Linked DNA regions of Homo sapiens: region 2 is linked to region 1. Evidence: fine-mapped QTL for protein levels in blood plasma. A gene starts in region 1. The other region holds a variant in brackets. All regions are shown on one strand. Distances are from middle to middle.

Region 1 (8,000 bases):
AGCCTCACCTTTTTGGGTTTCACTGGTGTCTTGGTAACGCGGGACTCTGGCACTGGCAGGACATCCATGACATCACCGTTTCAGATTCTTAAGAAAAAGACAACTTTCCCATAGCCAAATGTTCCTCTTCCCACCCTCTCTTTGGGGAATTAAAACACAAGCTTTTAGTATGCTGCAAAAACCTTGCGGCTGCATTTTAAGATGTTGCATTGGGGTCCTGCCTTTAAGTGGCTGCCCTCATTGCCTCCCTTTGAAAGAGGCCTCCAGATAAGTCCAGGGTAATTAAAATTTCCTGTCTAACCTTGACTGCTCCACCAGCTCACGTTACAGCCACGGATACACGCTGTAGAGTCAGTTTCTTCTGGGCCTTCTCATTCTTTTAAAATCAGGCCACTATTCTCTTGGCTCAGGCTATCCAGTAACAGGCTTGGAAATGGAGAGGGAACTTTCTCTGGCCGGGCTGATGGTGCCTCTGGCTTCCCACACTCATTAGAAAACACTCTTTCTTCTACAACACACCATTTAGGAGCCAGCCTCATTTGTTAGGTCCTAAGGACTCACAAAGGACACCACTCCAAGCACCCAACAAACTCAGAGGCTGGGAAGGATCCAGTTTTTTTAAGCCTTGAAAATGTAAGAAATCCCTAAGCCAAATACTTTTAAATAGGAAAATCAAATTTAAACGATCAAAGCATGTCTCCCAGTATCTGTATGAATCTTTCTAGCCCCAAACAAAAAGACAGGGTGTACTTTGTACTGGTCTAATCAGGTTATATACTGCAAGGGGCCCAACGAACTAAGGCGACATCAGAACATGAATCTAGAAACTGCTTAAAAGTGAAATTCTTAAGCCAGGCGCGGTGGCTCACGCCTGTAATCCCAGCGTTTTGGGAGGCTGAGGCGGGTGGATCATTTGAGGTCAGGGGTTCAAGACCAGCCTGGCCAACATGGTGAAACCCCATCTCTACTAAAAATACAAAAATTACCTGGGCATGGTGGTGCGCGCCTGTAGTCCTAGCTACTCGGGAGGCTGAGGCAAGAGAATGGCATGAACCCAAGAGGTGGAGCTTGCAGCGAGCCAAGATCGCACCACTGCACTCCAGCCTGGGCAATGGAGTGAGACTCCATCTCAAAAAAAAAAAAAAAAAAGGAAGGCCATGTGAAGACACAGAAACACACACAGGGAGAGCACCAGGTGCTCAGGGTGGCAGAGATTACGGTGATGCGCCCATACCACAAGAAATACCAAGAATTCTGGCAACCACCAGAAGCCAGGAAACAGGCACAGAAGGAGTCTTCGCTGGCGCCTCAAGGGCAGCACAGCCCGGCTGACACGTTGGTTTCAGACTTGTCAGACTTCTGATTTCCAGAACTATGAGAGGATATACTTCTGTTGTTTTATGCTACCCACTTTGTGGCATTTCATTCAGGCAGCTCTAAGAAACAAACGACCTCACCCAGCAGCAGAGGAGCTAACGAGTTCCTTCCGCAGAACCCGGAAGGGCAAAGCACACAGTCCCACGGGGACCCGGAACTCACCAAGAGGCCAGGTCACCACTCCACAGCTCAAACTGTGGGCTAAATCAGGTTCAAAAGATAAAGTGGACTCAGCAAAGTGAATTATTAAACAAAAAAGGACAACACAAAATGTGTACTTTTTTTATTTTTTTGAGACGGAGTCGCACTCTGTTGCCCAGGCTAGAGTGCAATGGCGTGATCTCGGCTCACTGCAACCTCCACCTCCCAGGTTCAAGCGATTCTCCTGCCTCAGCCTCCTGAGTAGCTGGATTACAGGCGTGTGGCACCATGCCTGGCTAATTTTTGTATTTTTAGTAGAGACGGGGTTTCACCACGTTGATCAGGCTGGCCTCGAACTCCTGACCTCATGATCCGCCTGCCTCAGCCTCCCAAAGTGCTGCGATTACAGGTGTGAGCCACCACACCCAGCCAAATGTGCACATTTACCCAAATTATGGATATGTGATAATCTAAAAATTAGGGGCTAAAATCCACCTGGCCTTCACCATAGGCTGAAACATGGAGCTAAATGCATCACATACATGAATTAATTTAATCCCCACAATAACCCCACATGGCAGGTCCTGTGCTTTCCCATTTGACAGAAGGGAAAACTGATGGCACAGAGCTTTTAAATAAGCTGCCCAAGGAACCTTCCAGGGAGCAAGTGGTGGGGCTGGGGTTTGAACCCAGGAAGCCTGCCTCCAAGTGCTCACTCTTCACAGCCTCACAAGACTGCTGCTGCCATGAGTAAAATCTGGAAGGTAATCCAATAGAAAACAAATTGGTGTGTTACATTTTCTTTAGTGTTTTTAACATTCTTATGTTATTAATTTAAGCTGTTGTGGCCATACCACCACCACCAAGGATGAGCCATCTGAGAACGGGGACAACGCAGAGAGGAAGGTGGCTTAACAAAAAGAGAAACTAAGCACTGATGGCAGCACCTAAGCGCCTAGATCCAGCCACACCTGAAGCTAGTGATGGCTTTTTGGTTTCCTCAGCCAAATTATTCTCGTTTTGTTTATGCCAATTTTGGTTGCAAGTGACAGAAAACTCAACCTAGAAAGAAATACCAAGTACTGGTTGAACTGTTAGCTCTGCTGGGATCCCAGGCCACACACTGCCTTCCCCTTGGCTTTTTTTTTTTCCCCTTGAGACAGAATCTCCCTCTGTCACCCTGGCTGGAGTGCAATGGTGTGATCTCTGCTCACTGCAACCTTTGCCTCCCAGGTTCAAGCAATTCTCCCACCTCAGCCTCCCGAGTAGCTGGGACTACAGGCCCGCGCCACCACTCCCGGCTAATTCTTGGATTTTTAGTAGAGATGGGGTTTCACCATGTTGGCCAGGCTGGTCTTGAACTCCTGACCCCAGGTGATCCGCCTGCCTCGTCCTCCCAGAGTGCTGGGATTACAGCCGTAAGCCACTGTGCCCGGCTCCCCTTTGCGTGATCCTGGTCCAGTACCTGTTTGCTCACAGATGCCACCTTGCTTCGTCTCCCAAGACCCTCTGAGCATATGGACTCTTTTTATCACTCTTAGGTAGTCAACTACAAGTTGATCTTTCCAAAGATTGTTTTATAGGAAAAACAAAAGAAGCCTGAGTGGCCACAAGAAAACTTGAAGATAAAGGTCCCTCCCCAAGATCCCCTGAATCCAGCTGGACTGGGAGGAACTGGTGGGGTCTGGGAGCAGCCCGGCCAGGGCAGTCTTCCCATGAAAGGCATTACCCCAGAGAAATCAAAGGGCTCCAACAAACCTTGCCTCACCCATTGCTTTTCCATTTTCGCCCCAGCCGCATTCTTTAGCGCACTGGGCCTTCCTGAACTGCCCAAACTAGACCCAGAAAACGCCACAGATCAGTGCCTGGAAGCCAGACAAAGAAACCAGGGTGTCAGGGAGGCAGAGGAGGCGGAGGCTCCCAAGTGCCGGCTCTGCAAACCTCCATGCAGGGGCAGCGGAGGCTCAGGCGACGCAGCGCCAGTCACAGCGCCTTTAAATAGAACCTCCACGCGGAGGGCAAACACATTCCATGCGCTTTTAAAAACGCCCAAGCATGACCTGGCCGGCGGCCTCAGCTCCCCCAGGCATTTTTCCGGTCTCGGCTCAATTCTGGAAATATTAATAGCTCGGTTAAGAGCTTACCGGGTGCAAAATACTTTTCGGCCTTAAAAGGCAGGGACTGTTACTGCTCCCACTCTCCAGATGAGGAAACTGAGATCCCCGGAGGTTCCAGGCGACGAGGTGGACTAGTGGGTCTCTATCGCCTGCCTCTGGCTCAGTGTCTCCCCAGGTGAGCGGCTCCCCGCGCACTGGGGCTCACAGAGCAGGACCGCAACGAGCCCCCGCCGGACCGGTGCCAGCGGCCAAGTTCGGTTCCCACAACCGCCCCCCCTCCCCGCGCCCCCAGGAGGCTCCCGGGCCGCGCCTGCTCCAGGAAAGTCCTGAATCTCTTACAACGACTTTACCAAACTCCCCGTTCTCGGCCTCCGCTCATTCATCAGACCCCGCGCTGCAGCCAAGGATTAACTTTCCCCTTTTGTTTTAAAAGATAAAAGGCCAACAGGGGCTAATTTTTCCCTTGGGGGGATACAGTGAAAGCTGGCAGGTGAGGCGCGGCGACGGCTCCCTTTCCTAGAAGTTGCTTTCGGAGCAAATCTCCGGACTGGCGGGCGGAGGGGGCGGGACCAGTGGTCGGGGTTGGGGGACCTGGAACTCGGGCCCGGCAGCCGCCGAGAACTTTTGGGCTCCGTCCCGGAGAGCTCCTGCTCCTGGTGTCCCCCCTCTTCGGCCCCGTCCCCCACCGCGCCGAGATAGACCCGAGCACGCAAGATCTGGCTGCGTTGGGCCAAATGCTACCTGCACCCCGGGACCCCTCCCCACACAAACAGGGCCCGGGACTTCGGACCAGAAAGCCCTCCCGCTCCCTCCCTGGTCCCGGGGGCGAAGGGCGCGCAGCGGGAGCTCACAGTTTGAACATGCTCTCCAGGTCCTTGATGAGGCGGCGGCTGAACTCCGGGAACTCCGTGTAGGGGTTGAAGACCCTGCAGCGCCGGGGCCGCGCAGCGCCCTCGTTGATGTCCAGCCGCCGGCTCAGCTGGGCGCTCAGCTCCGCGTCGGCGCTGGCCGTGGGCGCACGGGCGGGAGGCTCGGGCTCGGGCTTGGGCTCCGGGGCTGGGGCGCCGAGGGGAGCCAGCTGGGGGCCACTCTCCTCGGCCTCCTCGCGCCGCAGCCGGCGCTCCAGCTTGCACGCCAGCTCCTCACTGGCCATGGCGGCGGATCGCAGGACGCGGGAACGCGGGGACGCGGGACGGGACGCAGGGAGCTGGCGGGCGGCGCGCTCCTCGCAGGCTCGAGGCTCTACAACACTCCGCCGAGGCGGCGGGGACCCGGCGGTTGGGAGGGTCTGAGGACGGACTGGCGGGCGGGGCGGTCGGGGCGGAGCTGCGGCTTTAAGGAGGCGCCAGGGCTCAGCGACTGCCAGCCTGGTGGGAGGAGGCCGCCGGTGTCTGGGTGTCTGCGCGTCCCGGAGACCCCGACCTGCTTCCTCTCCCCGCGGCTCCGGGCGGGAGGCTGACCGTCCCCCCGGGACCAGGCAGGGACCCTCGGATCAACTCCGACCTTGCTGCCCCTGTCAGCTCCGGGGAAAACCGTAGCGGGAAAAAGCGTCTCGACCGTTCAGACGGTGCCTTTCTTGTCCCCCAGAAGTAACCCGACTGGAAGCGCTCGCGGCCCGGGACAGGCTGGGTGGGGGAGGCGAGCGCCCCCGAGCGACACCCACGCGTCCCCCGCGTCTGGGAGTGGTGCCCACCCTCCCCGGGGTCAGGGAGTGGGAGGCGCCCGCCCGGAGCGTGGGGCGGGGGAGCTGCTTTTCAAACACTCATTGGAACGAAATGTTTCCAAAACATGCTAAAAATACTAAAAACAAATAAGCAAACAAAAAAGAGAGAGAGCAAACGAGCAGAAAAAACTCCCGTTTTCCCTAGAGGCAGGAAAGCAGCGTAGCTTCAGGGACTCGGGTTTTTTTGCGTGAAACGCACAAGAAAAGAGAAGAAACCTGGCGCGGAGACTCACATCCGCAATCCCAACACTTAGGTGTTGGTGGCAGGATCTTTTGAGCCCAGGAGTTCGAGACCAGACTGGGCAACATAGTTAGACTGTCTCTACAAAAACTTTTAAAAAATCAGCCAGGCATAGTGGCGCTCGTCTGTAGTCCCAGCTACTCAGGAGGCTGAAGTAGGAGGATGGCTTGAGCCCGGGAGGTCGAGGCTGCAACGAGCCATGGTCAGGCCACTGCACTCCAGCCTGGGCGACAGAGTGAGACCCTGGCTCTAAAAATAAACGAAGAAGAAGGAGGGAGAGGGGGAGGAAAAAAGAAAGGAAAGAAGGAAAAGAAGCTTGAAAATTAAATCAGCATTTTTAACAAGAGGGTAAAAACAAATACAGTCGTCATTCTCCCCAAGGAAGGCTGATGCCGCTGTTACATCAGCCAGGCGTTGAGAATCTTGTAAACACGGGTCTGTCCCCACTTGAGAACGACGCTGCTCTGACCCACCATGGGCTGATGACTGGGGCAGGTCAGTGACCCCGCTGGACTATGGTTGTCTGAGACCCAGGGACCAGCCTTTGGCATGCGAGTGCAGGGCATGCGGGGGACCTGGGTTAAAATGTTATTTTTAAAAAGTTATAAAGGAAAATACGTTTTTTAAAGAAAAGTATAAAAATCTTTAACATTCCTACTGAACAACTTGACTTGGTACAGAGAATACGGGTTTTACATATACAATGGCAACCCTGCAAATAGATCACGGGGCGCTACACTTCCTGACCTGGTGGTGGTGACTAGAAGGTTGGCTTTGTTGTCACATCTGTTTTGACCACTTTATGTGACACATTTCAGAGAAATAAGGTCAAAAATTTTGTGTAATTAAACTTTTTTTAATTTTATATTTTAAAAACTTTTTTTTTTTTTGAGATGGAGTTTCATTCTTGTTTCCCAGGCTGGAGTGCAATGGCATGATCTCGGCTCACTGCAGTCCCTGCCTCCTGGGTTCAAGTGATTCCCCTGCCTCAGCCTCCTGAGTAGCTGGGATTACAGGCGCCCACCACTGCACCTGGCTAATTTTTTGTATTTTTAGTAGAGACAGGGTTTCTCCATGTTGGCTAGGCTGGTTGTGAACTCCTAGCCTCAGACGATCCTCCCACCTCGGCCTCCCGAAGTGCTGGGATTACAGGCATGAGCCACCACACCCAGCTGGTTTTGTTTTTGTTTTTTTTTTTTTTTAATGTTCTTATTCCATCGAGCTCTCCTCAAGAAAGAAAAAGTTCAAAATTCTTAATAGTCTCCATCAACAAGAAACTCTGGGGCTGGGCGCGGTGGCTCACACCTGTAATCCCAGCACTTTGGGAGGCAGAGGCAGACGCATCACTTGAGCCCAGGAGTTTGAGACCAGCTTGGGCAACATGGCAAAACCTTGTGTACAAAAAAAGATAAAATAAAAAATAAAAATAAAATAAAAAACAACTAGCCAGGTGTGGTAGTATGCACCTGTAGTCCCAGCTATTTGGGATCACTTGGGCCCGGGAGGTGGAGGCTGCAGTGAGCCATGATCATGCCACTGCACTCTAGCCTGGGTGGTAGAGTAAGACCTGTCTGAGAGAGAGAGAGAGACAGAGAGAGAGAGAGAGAAAGAAAGAGAGAGAGAGAGAGAGAAACTTTGCATGAGTAGGTAATACAATTTTTTTTTTAAGACGGAGTTTTGCTCTTGTTGCCCAGGCTGAAGTGCAGTGGTGCGATCTCGGCTCACTGCAACCTCTGCCTCCCAGGTTCAAGCGATTCACCTGCCTCAGCCTCCCAAGTAGCTGGGATTACAGGCACCCACCACCAAGCCCAGCTAATATTTTATATTTTTAGTAGAGACGGGGTTTCACCATGTTGGCCAGGCTGGTTTTGAACTCCTGGCCCCAAGGAATCCACCTGTCTTGGCTTCCCAAAGTGCTAGGATTACAGGCATGAGCTACTGTGCCCGGCCAGTAATAGAATTTTTAAACCATTTTTTACATGCTGAAATTTACAACAGTTAGTGTTAAAAAAATCTAACAGCTCTTTTTATTTATGAATATAATGTTGAAAATTTTTTAAATTAAAAATGACTTTTTTTCTTTTCTTTCTTTCTTTTTTTTTTTTTTTTAATAGAGATGAGATCTCTCTATGTTGCCCAGGCAGGTCTTGAACTCCTGGGCTCAATTGATCCTATTTGCCTAGGCCTCCCAAAGTGCTGGGATTACAGGGGTGAGCCACGGTGCCCAGCCTTGAAAATTCTGAAATTAATGGGAGTGGATTGTGAACAAAATTTCACTTTTTCATTGAAGTGTTTCCAAATGAGGGAGTGCTTTTAGATAATGCGCTTGCATACTGTGAGCAGTCACCTGGTGCCTCTCAAAAGGCACATCATCTGCAAGGGGCAAAGATTGAGGGCTGTG
Region 2 (8,000 bases), 22 kb before region 1:
TAGTGAGACCCCATCTCTTAAAAAAATAAAGAGGCCTGGCGCAGTGGCTCACACCTGTAATCCCAATACTTTGGGAGGCCAAGGCGGGTGGATCACGAGGTCAGGAGAACAAGATCGAGACCATCCTGGCTAACACGGTGAAATCCCATCTCTACTAAAAATACAAAAAATGAGCCGGGCGTGGTGGCAGGCACCTGTAGTCCCAGCTACTTGGGAGGCTGAGGCAGGAGAATGGCATGAACCCAGGAGGCGGAGCTTGCAGTAAGCCGAGGTCGTGCCACTGCACTCCAGCCTGGGTGACAGAGCAAGATTCCGCCTCAAAAAAAAAATAAATAAATAAATAAAATAAAATAAAATAAATAAATAACACAAATTTAAAAATTAAAATAAGTAAATCAGGCTTCCTCACTGATCTGGTTTGGATCTGCATCCCCACCAAATCTCATGTCGAACTGTAGTCCCCAGTGTTGGAGGTGGGACTTAGTGGGAGGCGGTTGGATCATGGGGGTGGATTTCTCACAAATGGTTCTGCACCATCCCCTTGGTGCCATTCTTGTGATAGTGAGTGAGTTCTTGCAAGACCTGGTTGTTCAAAAGTGTGCAGCACTTCCCCGCTTGCTCTGTCTTGCTCCTGTTCCGGCCATGTGAAGTACTGCTCCCCCTTCACCTTCTGCCATGGTTGTAAGTTTCCTGAGGCCTCCCCAGAAGCCAAGCACACGCTGCCATGCTTCCGGTACAGCCTGCAGAACTGTGCATGAGCCAATTAAGCCACTTTTCTTATAAATTAGTTAGTCTCAGGTTTTTCTTTATTGCTGTTTGAGAACTGACTCATCCACTCATTACCCGTCTGCATTCTCCCCAACACAGCCTCAGTAACAAAAACCCACCATTATTGAGAACAACCACTACCTGCCAAGAAATGTAGCCTGTGGGCACCTAGGAATCTAGTGCTGTGGACTGGCAGTAGTTAAGGCTCCCAAGGTCAGGCTGGAGAGGAGGCCCAGGAATCCCTGACAGGCTCCCTTCCAGCCACAGTGGCCAACTTGTGCCATTCCTCTCACCCAGCCACCCCCTCCCTGCCCTCCTCTATGGTCCTCCTGTGCCCAGGAGCTCAGGGAGCCACCTGCTTCCCCCACAGCTCTCCAATAGCACCCACTGTCCATCCTTCTCCGGGACTTAGCATTCACCACCTTCCTCTGGTGGGTGCTTCTATTTTTATTTCTTGTGTTTTTTTTTTTCTCAGTGCCCTCACTTTAACAGTATGCTGGCTACTTCTTACTCAAGCAGCTCTGTGCTCAGTGCAGCCTCCTTGCTGGCAGAGCTACATTGCAAAGCACTAAAGGACACAGACAAGATCGCTGGGTGGCTGTTGGTGAGCTTTGAGGAACCGTGAAGGATGAGACAGGTGTTCCAGATCTGGAAACAAGCAAGGTGCTTCTGGGTTTCCCAGAAGTGGGCAGAGTATGTGAATCACAGATGCACCAGCCCAGGATCTAGTGTTGCCAGAGGACGGTTTGTGAGCACTTTAAGAAGGGAAGCAACAATTTCCATGGGTTCACTGAAAATGACTTGAGGATGGACCTCACTTCCCTGTTTTCTAAGTTTTTTTTAAAAAACAGCTTTACTGAGATATAATTAACATACCATAAAATTCACTGTACAGTGCATTAATTTTTAGTATATTCAGGTTGTGCCAACATCATTACCATGTAATTCCAGAACGTTTGCCTCACCCTAAAAAGAAACTGATACCCATTAGCAGTCATTCCCCACTCTCCCCTTGCCACCCCTATCCCCCAGCAACTACTAGCCTTTCTGTCTGTATGGATTTGCCTCTTGTGGACATTTTGTAGCCCAACAATATTCCACTGTATCAATATACCACACTTCGTTTCTTCACTCATCAGGTGATGGACATTTTGTTGTTTCCACCTTTTGGCTCTTATGAATAGTGTTGCTTTGAACGTTCATATACAAGTGTTTGGACATATATTTCCATTTTTTCGTGTATATACCCAAGATTGGATGCTGGGTCACATGCTTATTTAGTTGTGAAACGTTACTGTCAAGTTGATCTAACAGAAAACCACAGCTGACCTGATGTTACCACTCAGGGTGAGCAACGCCCTCTAGCAGGCAGGCTCTTATGGGGAAGAGAAGTATGGATACAATTAGGCGGACTGGCTGTTAGTTAAAGCCACCTGGAAAGGGTGCTGACTCTCAGATTCGCTGGTGACACAAAGTTGGGGCAGAATCTAGGCCCAAAAGATCTCAGCAAGCTGGTGTGATGTCCACAGATAAAATATAGCAAAGAAAAATGCAAGGTCCTGGCTGGGTGCAGTGGCTCATGCCTATAATCCCAGCACTTTGTGAGGCCGAGGTGGGTGGATCATCTGAGGTCAGGAGTTCGAGACCAGCCTGACCAACATGGTGAAACCCCGTCTCTACTAAAAATACAAAAAAATTAGCCAGGCATGGTGGCGCATGCCTGTAATCTCAGCTACTCAGGAGGCTGAGGCAGAAGAATCTGTTGAACCTGGGAGGCAGAGGTTGCAGTGAGCCGAGATCGCACCACTGCACTCCAGCCTGAGTGACAGAGTGAAACTCAGTCTCAAAAAAAAAAAAAAAAAAAGAAAAGAAAGAAAAATGCAAGGTCCTAAACAAAGAATTACCATAGGATCCAATGGAGTCTGGACACTAGTATTCTTTTTTTTTTTTTGAGATGGAGTTTCATTCTTGTTGCCCAGGCTGGAGTGCAGTGGTGCGATCTCAGCTCACTGCAACCTCCACCTCCCGGGTTCAAGTGATTCTCCTGCCTCAGGCCTCCCGAGTAGCTGGGATTACAGGCGCCCACCACCATGGCCGGCTAATTTTTTGTATTTTTAGTAGAGACAGGGTTTCATCATGTTGGCCAGGTGGGTCTCGAACTCCTGACCTCAGGTGATCCGCCTGCCTCGGTCTCCCAAAATGCAGGGATTACAGGCGTGAGCCACCATGCCTGGCTGACACTAGTATTCTTAGCAGCATTATTCACAGTCACCAAAAGGTAGAAACAACTCAAATGCCCATTGACAAAATGTGATCTATACAAACAATGGAATTTCATTCAGCAATGAAAGGGAAGTGAACTCTGACCCATGCTCACAGGCTACAACATGGGTGAACCTTGAAGACATTGTGCCAAGTGAAATAAGCCAGTCGCAAAAAGGGCACCTCATTGTATGAATTCACTTATCAGGTCCCTAGAGTAGTCAAAATCATCGAGACAGAAGTAGAATGGTGACTGTCAAGGGCTGGGGAGGTGAATGGGGAGTTAGTGTTGAATGGGGACAGAGTTTCAGTTTAGGAGGGTGAAGACATTCTGGAAATGGATGACAGTGATGGTTGCATAATAATGTCAATGTTGTTGCCACTGAACTCTATACTTAAAAATGGTTAAAAATGGTGAATTTTGCTGGGTGCAGTCAGGCTTGCCTGTTATCCCAGCACTCTGGCAGGCCCAGGCAGGAGAATCACTTGAGCCTAGGAGTTTCAGACCAGCCTGGGCAACAAAACAAGACCCCATCTCTACAAAAAAATTAAGAAAGTACCTGAATGTGGTGGCCCACATCTGCGGTCCCAGCTACTCGGGAGGCTGAAGGGGGAGGATCACTTGAGCACAAGAGTTTGAGGCTACAGTGAGCTGTGATCACTCCAGCCTAGGTGACAGCATGCGACCCTGTCTCAAACAAAACAAAACTGCTAAATTTCACATTATGTATATCTCACCACAATTTTTAAAAAATGCAAGGTACTGGCTGGGAGCAGTGGTGCATGCCTCCAATCCCAGCACTTTGGGAGGCTGAGGTGGGAGGACTGTTTGAGCCCAGGAGTTCAAGACAAGCCTGGGCAACATAGTGAGACCCTGTCTCTTCAAAAATATAAAAAAATTAGCAAGGCATAGTGGCATGTGCCTGTGGTTCCAGCTCCTCAGAAGGCTGAGGCAGGGGGATCATTTCAAGCCTGGGAGGTCGAGGCTGCAATGAGCTGTGCTCATACAACTGCACTCCAGCCTGGGTGACAGAGTGAGACTCTGTCCCAAAACAATTAAAAAAAAAAAAAAAAAGCAAGGTCCTAAAACTAAGACCCCCACAGACTGACTTTCCCAGCACAGGTTTTGAGAGAAATGGCGCTCACTTGCAACTGTGACCACACCTTCAGGGGACTGGGACCCTACAGTGAGTCAGGGAGGCTGCCAGAAAACTCATGGGCGAAATAAATCATAGTGGCAAGTACAAAAAGTCCTGAATCCTGAATGCAAGGGCCACAGTCCTACCCACCTCATCATGGTCTGCCCCACTCCACACAGACCTCACACTTCAGGGAGGCCATGGGCCTGGTCAGTGGGAAGCAGCCAAGAAGACGAATGGACTTAAGACCCCACACAGGCCGGGCACGGTGGCTCACGCCTGTAATCCCAGCACTTTGGGAGGCCGAGGTGGGTGGATCACGCGGTCAGGAGATCAAGACCATCCTGGCTAACACAGTGAAACCCCATCTCTACTAAAAATACAAAAAAAGAGCCGGGCATGGTGGCAGGCGCCTGTAGTCCCAGCTACTCGGGAAGCTGAGGCAGGAGAATGGCGTGAACCCAGGAGGCGGAGCTTGCAGTAAGCCGAGGTC[G/A]TGCCACTGCACTCCAGCCTGGGTGACAGAGCAAGATTCCGACTCAAAAAAAAAAAAAAAAAAAAAAGACCCCACACAAGGACAGGACAGGGGTGGAAGGAACAAGTGGGATCTGGCAAAGAGCTGCCTTCAGATGTTGCCCAGGGGCCCAAAGGCTGCCAGAACTGGGCTCTGTGCATGGAAATGGGTGAGACAGACTTTAGCTAAGTGCAAGGAAGTGCCTTCTGGCAAAACGGCCAACTGGAACTAGACCTGAGAAGTAAAGAGAGCTTGCACAAACCGGCTGGGAGGGACAGTCTCTGTTACACGGAGTCCCAGTCAAAGTTAACAGGTTCAGTGTGGAACTTTCCAGAGCCTTCCGTATGTGTCCAAAACTTACAAGAGGGAAACAGAGCACACAGACTCATCTGACCACACAGTCCTCTGCATTTGGGGATTTTCTGTTGAGAAGACGTACCTTGGCAATGCGGTTTTTCAAGGAAACCCTCTGAGAAGCACTTCTCTGGTCAAGTCAGCCTTAGAAGGGGTGGCCCAGTTAAATGACCACTAAGGGCAGGTACAGTGGCTTGAACCTGTAATCCTAGCTACTCCAGAGGCTGAGGCAGGAGGACTGCTTGAGCCCAGCAGGTCAAGTCCAGCCTGGGCAACACAGTGAGATCTATCTCTTAAAAAAGAAAAACATGACCACTAAGGTGCCTTCAGTGCCAAGAGTCTGGATAAATGTCTTCTGCCCACCGCTCACTGCCCAGCACACATAGCGTGTTCCAACAGAATTCGCAGAACAGGCTGAAGTGATCAATGTGGTGCATATGACACGCCAATCATTTGGGACATGAACAAAGAGTGAGCAGAAAGGAAGGAGAGTGAAGCGAGTAAGGGAGGAACTGAAAAGCCTGGGTGTAAGGAGACAGCAGCGCCCAGGAACAGGAGACAAACTGACTAGGCAGATGGGAGGATAAGTAAAGGTCAGGGAATAGGCAGGAATCTGTCCTCAGCTGGGAGAGGAAGCACCAGGGAGACGGCTTCCCAGCCCACATAAGCCGGAGCTAGCGCAGCCTCCCGCAGACACAGAGGGGCTGTCACATGTGAGGGACAAGAGGCTCTCCCCAACACAGGGAGGGGGATGAGAAAAGCCATCCTCTGGCAGGGCACGGTGGCTCACGCCTGTAATCCCAGCACTTTGGGAGGCTGAGATGGGAGGGTCAACTGAGGTCAGGAGCTCAAGACCAGCCTGGCCAACATGGCGAAACCCTGTCTCTACTAAAAATACAAAAAACTAGCCTGGTGGGGTGGCGGATACCCACACCTGTAATCCCAGCTACTCAGGAGGCTGAGGCAGGAGAATTGCTTGAACCCAGAAGGTGGAGGTAGCAGTGAGCCAAGATTGTGCCACTGCACTCCACCCTGGGTGACAGAGTGAGACTCTGTCTCAAAAAAAAAAAAAAAAAAAAAAGAAAGAAAGAAAAGAAAAGTCATCCTTTTACCTCTGGGGTTCGAACTGAGAGGAGTCTAGAAGACTTGGGAAACCTTCCTTTCAGGCCCCAAAGCCTGCAACGTTCTCCAGGCCTAACAAAAAAGGTCAAATATGTCAGAAAAGACCTTGGCAAGCTTAGGAAATATTGAAGGAATTCCAACTTCTTTCTTTTCTTTTTTTTTTTTTTTTGAGATGGAGTCTCGCTCTGTCGCCCAGGCTGGAGTGCAGTGGTGCGATCTCAGCTCACTGCAACTTCTGCCTCCCGGGTTCAAGTGATTCTCATGCATCAGCCTCCCGAGTAGCTGGGATTACAGGTGCCCACCACCACACCCACCTAATTTCTGTATTTTTAGTAGAGACAGGGTTTCTCCATGTTGGTCAGGCTGGTCTCGAACTCCTGACCTCAGGTGATCTGCCTGCCTCGGTCTCCCAAAGTGCTGGGATTACAGGCCTGAGCCACCGGGCCTGGCCCCAACTTCTTTAAATGGGCAAGAAAATTTGGTTCAATTCCTTTGGAGAGAATGTGCTGGGAAACAGAAGCCCACTAGCCCAGTGGGCAAGTCCCATAGAAGGAAAAGGGCCATTGGTGTTCTGCTGAGAGCCACCAGCTGGGTACAGGAATAAAGTGAGTGTGGAGATATGACCATGTAATGTGGAGGGGAGAAGGGCAGGAGAGAAAGGAATCCTGAGCCAACCACCCCCTTCAATCCCAGCTGCTCAGTCAGGGCTGCTTTCTTTTGTTCCTGCTGGAAGCATCAGCCAAGTTCCCTTTATTTAAGTCCTGGCAGGACTCTAAAGCTACCACAGGCCGGGAGCGGTGGCTCATGCCCGTAATCCCAGCACTTTGGGAGGCCGAGGTGGGCGGATCACTTGAGGTCAGGAGTTGAAGACCACCTGGCCAACGTGGTGAATCCCCATCTCTACGAAAAATACAAAAATTAGCTGGACCTGGTGGCGCGTGCCTGTAATCCCAGCTACTTGAGAGGCTGAGGCAGCAGAATTGCTTGAACCTGGGAGGTGGAGGTTGTGGTGAGCCAAGATCATGCCACTGCACTCCAGCCTGGGCGACAGAGTGAGACTCCATCTTGAAAAAAGAAAAAACCAGCTGGGCACAGTGGCTCATGCCTGTAATCCTAGCATTTTGGGAGGCCTAGGCGGGTGGATCACCTGAGGTCAGGAGTTTGAGACCAGCTGGCCAACATGGCAAAACCCTGTCTCTAATAAAAATACAAAAATTAGCCGGGCGTGGTGGTGGGTGGCTATAATCCTAGCTACTCAGGAGGCTGAGGCAGAAGAAACTCTTGAACCCAGGGGACAGAGGTTGCAGTGAGCCGAGATTACACCACTTCACTCTAGCCTGGGCAAAGTGTGAAACTCCGTCTCAAAAAAAGAAAAAACCAACCACCCCACCAAACAAAAAGTATAATAAAAAGAAAAAAAATAATAAAGCTACAACATCAGTGGCACCCCCTCTCCTATGGAGCCAGGATATATACACCAGAAACCTATCTTTCTCTCTTCAAAGTGACCCTTGGAGGGTTTGTCTAGTCACTTCCTTTAGGGCCTGGATTTGCAAGACAGGCAGGAAAAACCTCACATCTTCATCATCTCACTATTCTATCTGCTTCTCTCAAAATGCCTGATGTCTACCTAGGGAACTGCACACAGCAGGGTTCCAAACATGTAGTAACTAAAACTGGTCGGCTTTGCAGTTCACGAGGCATTGTCTCATGTACTGATCCTTTTGATCTTCACAACAGTCCTGTGAAGAATTAATCACAGCCGCCTGCCTTTATGGTTGCCTGAGAGCTTAGAAGTGCCAGGCACTGTCCTAAATTACCTCACTGAACACAGCAGTACTGTG

Which allele goes with the higher level. Positions count from the first base shown, and alleles are read on the strand shown. Strength reflects both the effect of a copy and how common the allele is.
For the plasma level of the protein whose gene starts at base 4,889 in region 1, G is the low allele of the variant in region 2 and A is the other (moderate association).

Evidence for each region. PIP is the posterior inclusion probability: the model's chance that the variant is causal. Protein levels are from antibody-based Olink assays in UK Biobank. Linkage for the fine-mapping came from a reference panel and not from the study's own genotypes, which makes the PIPs less certain.
Region 2: its variant is fine-mapped to the plasma level of the EFHD1 protein (UK Biobank, PIP above 0.99).

The regions. Positions count from the first base shown.
Region 1 is chr2:232,630,493-232,638,492 of GRCh38, reverse strand. EFHD1 (EF-hand domain family member D1) reads right to left here and starts at 4,889. Exons shown (of 4, transcript NM_025202.4): 1 at 4,487-4,889. The coding sequence starts at 4,788. RefSeq lists silencers at 4,420-4,714, 4,792-4,851.
Region 2 is chr2:232,652,532-232,660,531 of GRCh38, reverse strand. All of the region lies in intron 1 of EFHD1 (EF-hand domain family member D1), which reads right to left. Among named protein-coding and RNA genes, the nearest start is that of EFHD1, 23 kb to the right of the region's middle. The variant G/A (reference allele first, on the strand shown) is at 4,663.